2 linked regions of the Homo sapiens genome follow. The protein of the gene in region 2 interacts with the protein of the main gene of each other region in a pairwise test. Each region holds a gene or a part of one and is shown on either strand. Other genes may lie near its edges.

What was found. Proteins that work in one complex are often made in the same cells at the same time.
Region 1: the proteins of TKT (region 2) and SERPINB5 interact in a two-hybrid assay, tested with the Homo sapiens proteins (one study listed by BioGRID).

What each region holds. Positions count from the first base shown.
Region 1 is NC_000018.10:63,500,244-63,505,585, forward strand, and holds the end of SERPINB5 (serpin B5), read left to right. Parts: intron 1-3,086; coding exon 3,087-3,479; 3' UTR 3,480-4,842; downstream 4,843-5,342. UniProt on the Homo sapiens protein: Tumor suppressor. It blocks the growth, invasion, and metastatic properties of mammary tumors.
Region 2 is NC_000003.12:53,231,068-53,239,668, reverse strand, and holds part of TKT (transketolase), read left to right. Parts: intron 1-1,848; coding exon of another isoform or gene 1,849-1,872; intron 1,873-4,494; coding exon 4,495-4,686; intron 4,687-6,394; coding exon 6,395-6,513; intron 6,514-8,118; coding exon 8,119-8,312; intron 8,313-8,601. UniProt on the Homo sapiens protein: Catalyzes the transfer of a two-carbon ketol group from a ketose donor to an aldose acceptor, via a covalent intermediate with the cofactor thiamine pyrophosphate.

The DNA of each region.
Region 1 (5,342 bases), on a different chromosome or scaffold from region 2:
TGTAAAGGTGGGATCTCACTGTGTTGTCCAGGCTGGTCTTGAAATCCTGGCCTCAAGCAATCCTCAGCCTCAGCCTCCTGAAGTGCTAGGATTATAGGCATGAGCCACCACACCTGGCCTTCACAATTTACGTTACGGTTCACTCTTTGTGTTGTACATTTATGAGATTTTAATACGTACACATATATGCTTCAAAATTTTGAATTATGCAGATACTATTTTATAGTACACATTATATATAAGTATTTTATTTTATATGATAAGGGTTATTATATTATTTTATTTATATAGATTTTTAAGGCACAAAGTTTAAATAAGAGTAGCAGTTTTCTCTGCAGGTGAATGGAGTTTTAGCTTCCTCTCTGCTCCCTCACCTCTGCTTAGCTGGCTGAGGCCTGTTCTCCCTTTAGTCCCTCCCTGGCTTCCATTCTAGCTCCACCCCGCCTGGCCTCAACCCTTGGCCAGGAAGGAAGAAGGGGCTCTTTGAAGGCCTGGATCACTTGCTATATATCCACATGGGCCTCAGTGATTTGCTGACTTTCCAGGGGACCATCCAGTCTCCAGCTTGCTCCTTTGGTTGCCATTATGTTTTAGCCACCACTTTATTAACTGAATTATAATTCCTGTCCTTCTTCTTCTTTGGTGCATTACTCTCTCTGTTTTTTTTCTTTCCATTTTATGCTTTGATCTTTCAGCCATTATCCAGCTGTCTTGGATTTTACCTTTCGTTCTTAAAACGCCCTCCAATAAACATCAATTATTTTCTTCTTCTTCTTCTTTTTTTATTTCAATAATTTATTTTTCTTTTTTTTAATTATACATTAAGTTTTAGGGTACATGTGCACAATGTGCAGGTTTGTTACATGTATATACATGTGCCATGTTGGTGTGCTGCACCCATTAAGTTGTCATTTATATTAGGTATATCTCCCAATGCTATCCCTCCCCCCTCCCCCCACCCCACAACAGGCCCTGGTGTGTGGTGTTCCCCTTCCTGTTTCCAGGTGTTCTCATGGTTCAATTCCCACCTATGAGTGAGAACATGCAGTGTTTGGTTTGTTGTCCTTGTGATAGTTTGCTGATAATGATGGTTTCCAGCTTCATCCGTGTCCCTACAAAGGACACGAACTCATCATTTTTTATGGCTGCATAGTATTCCATGGTGTATATGGGCCACGTTTTCTTAATCCAGTCTATCATTATTGGACATTTGGGTTGGTTCCAAGTCTTTGCTATTGTGAATAGTGTTCCAATAAGCATACGTGTGCATGTGTCTTTATAGCAGCATGATTTATAATCCTTTGAGTATACACCCACTAATGGGATGGCTGGGTTAAATGGTATTTCTAGTTCTAGATCCTTGAGGAACTGCCACACTGACTTCCACAGTGGTTGAACTTGTTTACGGTCCCACCAACAGTGTAAAAGTGTTCCTATTTCTCCATATCCTTTCCAGCACCTCTTGTTTCCTGACTTTTTAATGATCGCCATTCTAACTGGTGTGAGATGGTATCTCATTGTGGTTTTGATTTGCATTTCTCTGATGGCCAGTGATGATGAGCATTTTTTCATGTGTCTGTTGGCTGCATAAATGTCTTCTTTTGAGAAGTGTCTGTTCACATCCTTTGCCCACTTGTTGATGGGGTTGTTTGATTTTTTCTTGTAAATTTGTTTGAGTTCTTTGTAGATTCTGGATATTAGCCCTTTGTCAGATGAGTAGATTGCAAAAATTTTCTCCCATTCTGTAGGTTGCCTGTTCACTCTGATGGTAGTTTCTTTTGCTGTGCAGAAGCTCTTTAGTTTAATTAGATCCCATTTGTCAATTTTGGCTTTCAATTATTTTCTTCTTAAAGTATAGAACTAAAGAAAATGACCTTTTGAGTTTTGGAAATGATTTTTTTTTTTTTTTTGAGATGGAGTCTTGCTCTGTCCCCCAGGCTGGAGTGCAGTGGCATGATCTCAGCTCACTGCAAGCTCCGCCTCCTGGGTTCATGCCATTCTCCTTCCTCAGCCTCCCGAGTAGCTGGGACTACAGGTGCCTGCCACGACGCTTGGCTAATTTTTTGTATTTTTAGTAGAGACGGGCTTTCACTGTGTTAGCCAGGATGGTCTCGATCTCCTGACCTCGTGATCCACCCACCTCGGCTTCCCAAAGTGCTGGGATTGCAGGCGTGAGCCACTGCGCCCAGCCGCATCTCTCTCATTTTTTAAAACAGCTAAAATGGATGCATTCACTACCTATGACCCTAGGGCATGGCTCAGAGTTAGTTCAAATTCCCATTAAAAAAAAAAAGTAACTTTAGCTTTAATTTAATTTTCTAAATCTGATGCCATTCCTAGTACATGAATATTCTGGATTTCCTCGTAGAGAAATTACAATAAGCATTCAAGAAATATGTGTAAAAAGCTTTCTAATTTTATATTCATTTCACTATTGTGTATGCAACATCATGATCCAGGCATTTGTTTCTATAAATCTACTCTCTAACTTAAGGTTGGGTGCGGTGGCTCACACCTTTAATCCCAGCACTTTGGGAGGCTGAGGCTGGCACATCACTTGAAGCCAGGAGTTTGAGACCAGCTTGGCCAACATGATGAAACCCTGTCTCTACTACAAATACAAAAGAAAATTTAGCTGGGCATGGTGGAGTGTGCCTGTAATCCCAGCTACTCGAGAGGCTGAGGCACGAGAATTGCTTGAACCCAGGAGGCAGAGGTTGCAATGAGCGACGATCACACTATTACACTCCAGCCCGGGTGACAGAACAAGATTGTCTAAAAAAAACCCAAACAAACAAACAAACAAACAAAAAACTACTCTCTAACTTAAAATGAAAAAACAGAACCCTGTCCTCATAAATTTCAGTGCACATGGAACACTGTTATAGGCTGGGGAGGAGGAGGACACAGCTGGGTGGCTGCTGGGTCTCCTGAGTCACATACCAAAAACTTCTGGGCCATCTTTGATGTTCCACCCAGACTGCTTTGAAGCTGGGCTTATCATAACACCTTATGTTTTCAATTGAGCCAGGTCTTTTACAGTTGGAAATAAATAAAAATAATTTCTTTTCATTTTTGTCCTTCAGATTGAAAAACAACTCAACTCAGAGTCACTGTCACAGTGGACTAATCCCAGCACCATGGCCAATGCCAAGGTCAAACTCTCCATTCCAAAATTTAAGGTGGAAAAGATGATTGATCCCAAGGCTTGTCTGGAAAATCTAGGGCTGAAACATATCTTCAGTGAAGACACATCTGATTTCTCTGGAATGTCAGAGACCAAGGGAGTGGCCCTATCAAATGTTATCCACAAAGTGTGCTTAGAAATAACTGAAGATGGTGGGGATTCCATAGAGGTGCCAGGAGCACGGATCCTGCAGCACAAGGATGAATTGAATGCTGACCATCCCTTTATTTACATCATCAGGCACAACAAAACTCGAAACATTATTTTCTTTGGCAAATTCTGTTCTCCTTAAGTGGCATAGCCCATGTTAAGTCCTCCCTGACTTTTCTGTGGATGCCGATTTCTGTAAACTCTGCATCCAGAGATTCATTTTCTAGATACAATAAATTGCTAATGTTGCTGGATCAGGAAGCCGCCAGTACTTGTCATATGTAGCCTTCACACAGATAGACCTTTTTTTTTTTTCCAATTCTATCTTTTGTTTCCTTTTTTCCCATAAGACAATGACATACGCTTTTAATGAAAAGGAATCACGTTAGAGGAAAAATATTTATTCATTATTTGTCAAATTGTCCGGGGTAGTTGGCAGAAATACAGTCTTCCACAAAGAAAATTCCTATAAGGAAGATTTGGAAGCTCTTCTTCCCAGCACTATGCTTTCCTTCTTTGGGATAGAGAATGTTCCAGACATTCTCGCTTCCCTGAAAGACTGAAGAAAGTGTAGTGCATGGGACCCACGAAACTGCCCTGGCTCCAGTGAAACTTGGGCACATGCTCAGGCTACTATAGGTCCAGAAGTCCTTATGTTAAGCCCTGGCAGGCAGGTGTTTATTAAAATTCTGAATTTTGGGGATTTTCAAAAGATAATATTTTACATACACTGTATGTTATAGAACTTCATGGATCAGATCTGGGGCAGCACCCTATAAATCAACACCTTAATATGCTGCAACAAAATGTAGAATATTCAGACAAAATGGATACATAAAGACTAAGTAGCCCATAAGGGGTCAAAATTTGCTGCCAAATGCGTATGCCACCAACTTACAAAAACACTTCGTTCGCAGAGCTTTTCAGATTGTGGAATGTTGGATAAGGAATTATAGACCTCTAGTAGCTGAAATGCAAGACCCCAAGAGGAAGTTCAGATCTTAATATAAATTCACTTTCATTTTTGATAGCTGTCCCATCTGGTCATTTGGTTGGCACTAGACTGGTGGCAGGGGCTTCTAGCTGACTTGCACAGGGATTCTCACAATAGCCGATATCAGAATTTGTGTTGAAGGAACTTGTCTCTTCATCTAATATGATAGCGGGAAAAGGAGAGGAAACTACTGCCTTTAGAAAATATAAGTAAAGTGATTAAAGTGCTCACGTTACCTTGACACATAGTTTTTCAGTCTATGGGTTTAGTTACTTTAGATGGCAAGCATGTAACTTATATTAATAGTAATTTGTAAAGTTGGTTGGATAAGCTATCCGTGTTGCAGGTTCATGGATTACTTCTCTATAAAAAATATGTATTTACCAAAAATTTTGTGACATTCCTTCTCCCATCTCTTCCTTGACCTGCATTGTAAATAGGTTCTTCTTGTTCTGAGATTCAATATTGAATTTTTCCTATGCTATTGACAATAAAATATTATTGAACTACATGTCTTGTTTTTTTTTTCCTATTAAGTTAGACTATTTTGAAATAGAACCAAGCCGTGCGTTTACAAAAGCATCCCTGAAGCAGGCAGATCACAAGGTCAAGAGATTGAGACCATCCTGGCCAACATAGTGAAACCCCGTCTCTACTAAAAATACAAAAATTAGCTGGGCGTGGTGGCGCCCACCTGTAGACCCAGCTACTCAGGAGGCTGAGGCAGGAGAATCGCTTGAACCTGGGAGGCGGAGGTTGCAGTGAGCCAAGATCAGGCCACTGCACTCTAGCCTGGCGACAGAGCAAAACTCCGTCTCAAAAAAAAAAAACAAAACAAAAACTCAAAACATAAAAACAACAAAAACAAAACAAAACAAAAAGAACAAACCCCAAAAAACCCCAAAGCATCCCTGTAGGTAAAATGCTCTTTTGAAGATTGAGGCAGACTAAAAAGAAATAAGAATAATTACTTCCTCTTTTCCCTTGTTTTCCTTTCTTCCTAGCCCTCAG
Region 2 (8,601 bases):
GGTGATTTGTAGGAACGGCCCCCCAGGAAGGTTCTAGCCATAAGTTTGTCTGCGGTGGTCAGATATGGCCTGGGGGGATGAGGTTGTAAACTGTTAAGAATAATGGCTGGCTGAGGGAAGGATTGCTTGAGGCCAGGAGTTCCAGACCAGCCTAGGCAACAGAGCAAGACTCTCTCTACAAAAAATACAAAACTTAGCCAGGCATGGTGGTACACACCTGTAGTCCCAGCTACATAGGAGGCTGAGGTGGGAGGATCACTTGAGCCTAGGGCTTCAAGATTATAGCTATACATGATTGAGCCACTGCACCCTAGCCTGGGCTACAGAGCGAGACTCTGCCTCTTTAAAAAAAAAATTATTCTTTTTTTTAAAGAATAATCACTGTATTAGTCTGTTTCCACACTGCTGATAAAGGCATACCCAAGTCTGGGGAAGAAAAAGAGGTCTAATGGACTTACAGTTCCACATGGCTAGGGAGGCCTCACAGTCATGCTGGAAGGTAAGGAGGAACAAGTCACATCTTATGTGGAAGGCGCAGGCAAAGAGAGAGTTTGTGCAGGGAAACTCCCGTTTTTAAAACCATCAGATCTTGTGAGACTTATTCACCATCACGAGAACAGCATGGGGAAGACCTGTCCCCATGATTCAGTTATCTCCTGCTGGGCCCCTCCCACAACCAGTAGGAATTACGGGAGCTACAAGGTAAGATTTGGGTGGGGACCCAGAGCCTAACCATGTCAGTCACTCATCAGAAGGGTTCCTTTGCCCTTTGGGGGCTAGGCCCTGTGCTCAGTGCTCATGTGCTGTATTGGGTTCCACCTTTAAAAGCCCCCTGTGAGTTGGGTAGTGGTGTGAGAACCGTGACCCGTCTTACAGGTGAGGAAGCTGAGGCAAGATGCTGGCCTAGGCCATCCAGTTGGTGGTGGAGGTACCCAGGCTGCTCTTGGAGAGGCTGAGGGCACCACAGGAGCTCGGGGAGTCCTGTGGGCGGGAAGCCTCCTAGAGGAGGAAGGCCAGTGGGGCCAGCCCGCAGGGTGTGAGAAGGGCCCAGTTCTGCAGCTGATGGCATCTCCACTGCCCTGTCCTCCACTCCTGCAGCAGAAGTGCCATAGTGGGGTTCGGGAAGACTGTGGGTCCTTGAAGGACAGGAGGCTGCAGGGAGCACCTTCTGTGTGCAGGCCCTTCCCCAGGACTGGCTCTCCAAGGAGGCCTCACAGTCCCTTCCAGACCCCTTCAGGCCAGTGTCACCTGACCACAGTTTGCTTTCATTCCTTGGTGAGCCTTGGGGCAGGCTTGGCTACACCCAGAAGTGATTCACCATGAAGTAAAGAGAGAGAGACACACAAAGAATGAGATGCATGTTTAAGAGCATTTTATTTGGCAGAGAACCAGAGATGTGAGTTAATTATTCCCTACAGTTGCTGGAAATAATTCCCTGTGAAGGGGCATTTCCTGACCCTAACATAATGGAACAAGTCAGTGTAGGGAGAAGGAGTTTAGCTGGGTTCCCAGAAGCCAGGGTGGCTTGGGGCCAGGGTTGCCTGGAGCCTAGGCCCCTGACTGTACCTGGGGGAAGGGGCCAGGGCATCCAGGGATTATCATGTCAGGCCAGGCACCCGGAGGTAGCGTCTTGATAGAGCAAACTGGTCTCCACTCACTGTTTCTCCCTGCCCTCCTGTTTAAAAAGTACAGAATGATATTAAGAAATGAACGTTTTCCTTATTTTTTTATTTTTATTTTTTCTGAGATGGAGTCTCGCTCTGTCACCCAGGCTGGAGTGCAGTGGTACGATCTCGGCCCACTGCAACCTCCGCCTCCCGGGTTCAAGTGATTCTCCTCCTGCCTCAGCCTCCCGAGTAGCTGGGACTACAGGTACGTGCCACCACGCCTGGCTAATTTTTTGTATTTTTAGTAGAGACGGGCTTTCACCATGTTAGCCAGGATGGTCTCAATCTCCTGACCTTGTGATCTGCCCACCTCGGCCTCCCAAAGTGCTGGGATTACAGGCATGAGCCACTGCACCCAACCAATGTTTTCCTTATTCTTAGCACACTGCCTCCCACCCCCAATTTAAATCTAATGATGTATTTTGTCCATGTTATCATGAGAAAAGCTTACAAATCTGTAATCCCAGTGTGTGTGTGTGTGTGTGTGTGTGTGTGTGTGTGTGTGTATAATATAAAATCTAGTATTACACTTTAAACCAAGCCTTCTATCATGAGCTTTTTCTCCTGATATTAACAGTGGAGAGCTGGTTTTTTTTGTTTTGTTTTGTTTTTTTGAGATGGAGTCTTGCTCTGTCACCCAGGCTGGAGTGCAGTGGTGCCATCTTAGCTCACTGCAACCTCCGCCTCCTGGGTTCAAGTAATTCTCCTGCCTCAGCTTCCCGAGTAGCTGGGATTACAGACGCGCACCACCACACTCAGCTAATTTTTATATATTTAGTAGAGACGGGGTTTCATGACGTTGGCCAGGATGGTCAGTCTCAAACTCCTGACCTCAGGTCATCTCCCTACTTCAGCCTCCCAGAGTGCTGGGATTACAGGCGTGAGCCACTGCACACATCCTGAGAGCTGGTTTTAATGATCACATAATATTCTGTTTTATGGAGATGCTATAATCCATCTAGCCAGTCCTTTGTTGTTGGACACGTAAGGTAGTTTCCAAATCGTTCTACAACAAATGTCGACCTTCTGTTTAGGGTTCCCTCTCTTCAAATTAGTTCATGAATGGATGTTTGCAGCCCCCCACCCCTAACTCTAACAGCTCAGGCAATACCAAGCCTCAGGGTTAGCCCAGGCTCCTGTAGGCCCCTTCCCTGTTCACAACCCCTTCCTTGGCATCTCCTCGGGACCTCAGCACGCCCTCTGACCTGAGCCTGATGGCCCTGTAGGGCTTAGCCTTGTCCCTAGTCTCGAAGCCAAAGCTGTGCTGGGCCTCCAGTGCTAGCCTCGGTTCGACTTCCCTGGAAGTGGGTGTGGGCTTGGGGTGGCAGCCAGTTGCCTTCCCTGGAATCCCTTTCTGGGAAGTCGAGTTGGCTTCTCTGGCTCAGCCCCATCATGTGGCCCCTTTCTGGAGCTGCTGTGCCAGACCAGAGTCCCTGCAGGGTCTCTGGGCCCCCTCAAAACCTACAGGGGAAAGAGGAGGCAAGGCTGGGACAGGATAGGGCCTCTGAAGTGTGGGCCTGAGGCTTTGTCCTTCTGGCCATGGTACCCCACAGGGGCACCACCTCCTGTGGTGGAGGCCACAGAAGAGCAGTATGAGGCAGGAGAGGCTGCAGGGAGTGCTCCTGGCCTGCTGGCATGTGGAAGTGCTGAGTCATGCTGACAGCTCCGTGGCTAGCTGTCCCAGCCTCTTCCTGCTGCCCCTGCCTTGGCCCTGCGGCAGGGAGGCCTGGAGGCTTGGACTGCTGAGCATGCAGCCGGGTTGAGGGCCTTTTCCTGCAGGAGCAGGAGGGCAGCCATGTCCCCTCTGAGCCCAACCAGGCACCAGCCTCATTTCCTAGGGCTACACAGCTAGACACTGGGCAGGGTAAGGGGAGGTCCCCAAGTCCTACCACTCCTCACCCTACTTGCATGCCTGCACGGCAAGGAGCGGACAGTCTAGGCTACAGTCAGACCTGCGTTTGAATCCTGGCTCAGCAACTTCCTGACAGCGCGACCTTCAGACAAGTCCTGTCTGTTGCTGCCGTCCCTCTGCTACCCCCATCCCCTCACATCTCCCAGGCCGGGAACGTTCTGTTTGCTGGGTAATTTATCCCAAGTTCAGTGTTCTTTTTAACGTCTCACTGTCTTGAAAAGATCACAGTTGCCTGTGTTGAGGGGAGGAGAGGGCCCCTGTGGTAGAGAAAGAGCCAGGTGCAGCTTCAGTCTTGGGGTCAAGAGCTAGTCTTGGAAGCTTGGGGAGAGCCTGTCCCAGGAAGCGCCTGGTCCTCAAGTGCCCTCTGCTCTATCCTCCCCAGAGCCCTCTTGCTCCAGGGTGTTGCCTAGAGTGCCTCAGGCCTCCTTGGCCCACCTCCCTCCTCCGGGCAGAAGCAGAGCTTGGTTCCCAAGGTTCCCCTTTCCCACTGGCCCACCCAGCCAGTCCCAAGGCCTCCTCCAACCTCTGGTTCACAGCGGGGTCTGTCCCCTGCAGCAGGTGGCTCAAGCCTATTCACCCACCCTTCCTCACTTTCCTCTCATTCCAACAACCCCCATTTTTCTAGATCTTATTAGCCAGATCCCTGTTGTCCTAGACCTCTGTTTCTTAACAACCAGTACTTCTTCCTGAGCTCCTGACGTCTTCCTTCATGCCATTTTCTCTTGGGGTGTGGCTTGTGGTAGGCTGCAGGAACCTGGTGACACTGTTGCCCCTCGAGTGTAAATGCCATCTGTTCTGCATATCCATGCGTGGCTGCTCCTTTACCCAGAATGCAGGCTCCTTGGATGGGTGGGGGGGTGGGAGCCAGCTGGGTCCAGGTGAGAGGGACTGGCCTGATTCACTCTCTGTCCACAGCTACCGAGTCTATTGCTTGCTGGGAGACGGGGAGCTGTCAGAGGGCTCTGTATGGGAGGCCATGGCCTTCGCCAGCATCTATAAGCTGGACAACCTTGTGGCCATTCTAGACATCAATCGCCTGGGCCAGAGTGACCCGGCCCCACTGCAGCACCAGATGGACATCTACCAGAAGCGGTGCGAGGCCTTCGGGTATGTACGAGGCTGTGGCCTGAGTGTGGTCACAGCACGGGAGAGTGGTCTGTGATCACAGCTTTGCAGGTGCAGGTGCAGGAGCTGAAGCTGGGACCTTAAGCACCATCTAAAGGTCCCTTTCTTTAGCATTTGACTCACAATTTCAAACTCTAGGCATTTGGACTTAATGGCTCAGGATATGTGGGCCAGGCCCAGTTTTAAGTGAGTTTCCTTGTTTTCGTGGTTGTGGCATGGTGGCTCTCGGAGCTTCCACACACCATCTCACGTCAGCTCGCTTTGTTCTTGAGGAAGGAGGGTTCTTGAGGGATGGGGGCTTGCTCGGTAAAGCTAAAGGATGTATAGCTGCGGAGAGGTTTGAACCTCAGTTTGGTGGCCACGTCCTGTGCCCAGCCCCGCCCAGCCTGGGGAGGAGGAACAGGCTCCTGGTGAAATGGGAGATAGGGTTTCCAGATGCCCCCCTTCGGCCTTGATTGGTTACAAATTCAGGGTCAAAGGGCACAAAGCAGGGAGGTCAATCTGCATGGGTGTCAGCCAGAGGGGCTCCACCTCAAAGCCTCCACCGGTGTTGCCAAACACAAGCTGCTCTGCACAGGGGCCCAGCATTGGCTGAGGAGGCTGTGGAGGGGAGGGAGCAGGGCAGGTGCCGTGCAAGGCTTTGAGACTCAGGTCAGGCCTCCAGGACTGCGTTTTGCGGATGAACCCATGCCTGTGACTACACTAAGTAACAGGATGCTTGGGGTTACCTTGCAGTAGCACAGCATACGCAGGCCTGTGTTCCCTGATGACTGACCTCAGAAAGGGAGAGGAGGAAGGGAGGAAATAATCTCTGTTGGACAGGCGAGGAAACTGAGCCACAGGGTCCTCACCCCACAGGCCTCCCCAAGGCCACATCTATCTGGGGACTCAGAGTACAACCCCAGCAGCACCCCCAGGACCTGTGTCCATAACCTCGTGACTCAAGCCAGATTCCTGAAGTCCTGGCTCCACCGCTAACTTGCTTTGTGGCGTGGGTCACGTTACTTACTCCACCTTCGGTGTCTCAGTTGATTTGTCTGTACAATGGGGCCAGCTCAGCACCCAAGCATGGCGTGGTGAGGCTTCAGTGGGCTAATATGGGTAGTGGTTGGCATGGCACTCAGTTTGAGAAGTGCTATTTTTATTCTTATGTCAAAAAGAGTCCCCAAAAGGATAGCTTTTCAAGAGAAAGGGTGCTCTGCCCCAGCTCCTTCCTGTATATTTGACTCCATGGTTCATTTCAAAAACATTTCCAGCACCACATCCAGCATCTGTGGAGTGATCAAATGTGTTCCCCAAATAAGAATTGGGCCAAAAAATTCATCAAGAATCTAATAGCAGACAGATTCCAAACCCAGTGCGCTGACCCCAGAACAGCTTTCAGTAGGAAATGAGCAGATCAGGAATGAAAGAGACAATAAAGGAACTGAGCTCTGGATTACTTAAGAGGAGGAGGAAAACCTGTTCAGAGGCAAACAAAAGGAAGTAAAATAATGTGAAAAAGAAAAGGATTTAAAAAACCCAAACTGGAAACAGGAATGTTGCAAGCTTTCTACTACTCCAGCTGAGGCCGCAGTTGTGGGGTGGAGCCTGGGCAGACCCCAGCTGCCAAGGCAGACCTTTCCCTGGAAGGCTCCTCGGTGTTGTGGCCCCTGGGAATTGCCCCTTACTCTCTGCCCCCTGTCCCCAGTTGGCATGCCATCATCGTGGATGGACACAGCGTGGAGGAGCTGTGCAAGGCCTTTGGCCAGGCCAAGCACCAGCCAACAGCCATCATTGCCAAGACCTTCAAGGGCCGAGGGATCACGGGTCAGTATGCACAAGCCGCCCTCCCCACCTTCACCCCTCGCCCAGACACTGTGGCTACGTAGCTCTGACCCGCACATCCAGGGAAACAGCCCTTGCTGCTCACTGAGCTCACCAGGCTCCAGGGAAGGGGAGCGGGAGATGCTGTGACTCAGTGACCCCTGTGGCTGAGCCAGGATTTAAACTCAGATCCGTCTGGCCTCTGCCGGTGGGGGCATGTACAGGCAGGAGGAGAGGAGGGACTTGGAGGGTCTGTGGGTGAGAGGAAGGTCGTGGAGTGAGGCAGCCCCCGTGCCCCACCCTGGCTGGTGCCTTTCAGAGCTGCAGCTGTGTGTGCTCTGCCAGCTCCGGCCACCTGCTCCAGCTGAAGGGCCGACACAGAGCCAGGCAGGGCCCGGAGAGAACTGTTCCCTCCAGGAGGTGAGTGGGGTACTCCTCAAGCAATGGCAGATGCTGAGCAAGGCCTGTGTGGGCCAAGAGCCTTGGGGGGTTTGGAACCTGGGTTCTGCCCCAGGCCGGAGAATGAGGCAGGCGTAAGTCACTCCCTGGCACCCAGGTGTGGGCTTCAGATTCCTAGGCCTGGGATGGCCTCACCCATTTTAAAGATGGGAAAATGAGACTACAAGTGGTCAGGGACTTGCCCGGGGACAGAGGAAGTCTATGGCACGAGGGGGGCTGATCCCAGGGCCTGGGTCGGCTTCCCTGCCAAATGCCCCTGGCTGCCCACCTGCCTGCTCTCAGGGGTTGTGGCTTGTTCTGCCCATGTAGACTCAGGTATATGAGGATGTTCTGAGTGGGGGTTTGGCAGTGCTGGGAGGTGTCTGGGAGGGGGTGGATGTCGAGGAAAGGGCTCTGGGATATTGTCATGGCTTTGGTGCTGCTGCCTGGCACTGCCCTCTGGTGTTAAAAATGGGCAGGATCTGGACCACTTGCAGCTTCTTGGGGGCTCCTGCTAGTCTTTCGGGCTGCTGGGTGCTACCTGGGAGTTCAGTCTGTTCTTGGCTCTGGCCAGACTCTAGTGACTACTGAGGTGACCTCCAGGGAGAGGGATATTCAGCCTTCCTGGCCGCACACAACAAGGTGCCATGGGGTGGGCATGCCTAGGTGCTTATAGACTCCTCTGCTGCTCACAGATGCATTGGGTGACCCTGGAAGCCCTGTTCTGGGCCTTGGGTTCCCCTTCTGATGGCCAGGGTCCCTTCCAACCCAGTCGACAAACTGAGTATTTCTGCAGCAGACACCTCTACCTGTGTGTGACCCTGCAGGCGGGGTTGTGGGGAGGAAGAGAATGGACACATTGGTGAAGGGATGGGGCAGTGGGCCCAGAAACACACACCTGCCCACGTCTGGCCCCTCCTTTCCCACTCAGCTGTGAGCTCCCAAAGGACCAGGCAGTAGACAGTGAGTGGTGGGCACGTAGGAGTCCATCCTATTCACTGCGACCCTCCTTTCCTGGCCCCCGTGCCTGGCTGGGCTCTGCCTGTCTGGGATGATGCCATTCCTCCCTTGCCCTCGGCAGGTAGAGGGCCAGTCTCCTGGAGCAGCCTCCTGGCCCTCTGGGAGCTTCTGTCTTACCCATTCCTCTGTCCTCCCGTGTTGGGTCTGCAGGGGTAGAAGATAAGGAGTCTTGGCATGGGAAGCCCCTCCCCAAAAACATGGCTGAGCAGATCATCCAGGAGATCTACAGCCAGATCCAGAGCAAAAAGAAGATCCTGGCAACCCCTCCACAGGAGGACGCACCCTCAGTGGACATTGCCAACATCCGCATGCCCAGCCTGCCCAGCTACAAAGTTGGGGACAAGGTACAAAGTGGGGCCTGTTTCTCTGAACCCATAGTTCTCAGGTTTCCCAAGTCTGTGGCCCAGATACACCCTCTGGAGGGCTGGGAAAGGGAGGAGAGCGATTCATTTAGGGCGAGGAGTGATCCCTGAGGTGTTGTTCCTGTCACTTCCCTCAGAATGACAGACATCTCTGGAGTTGACCTGCAGAGGCTCAGACCGGGCAAGGGAATTGCCCACTTAGCAAGCTTAGCAAGCTACTGACAGAACTGAGATCAAAGCCAAGGACTCACTCCCAAGTTCTTGCATCGCT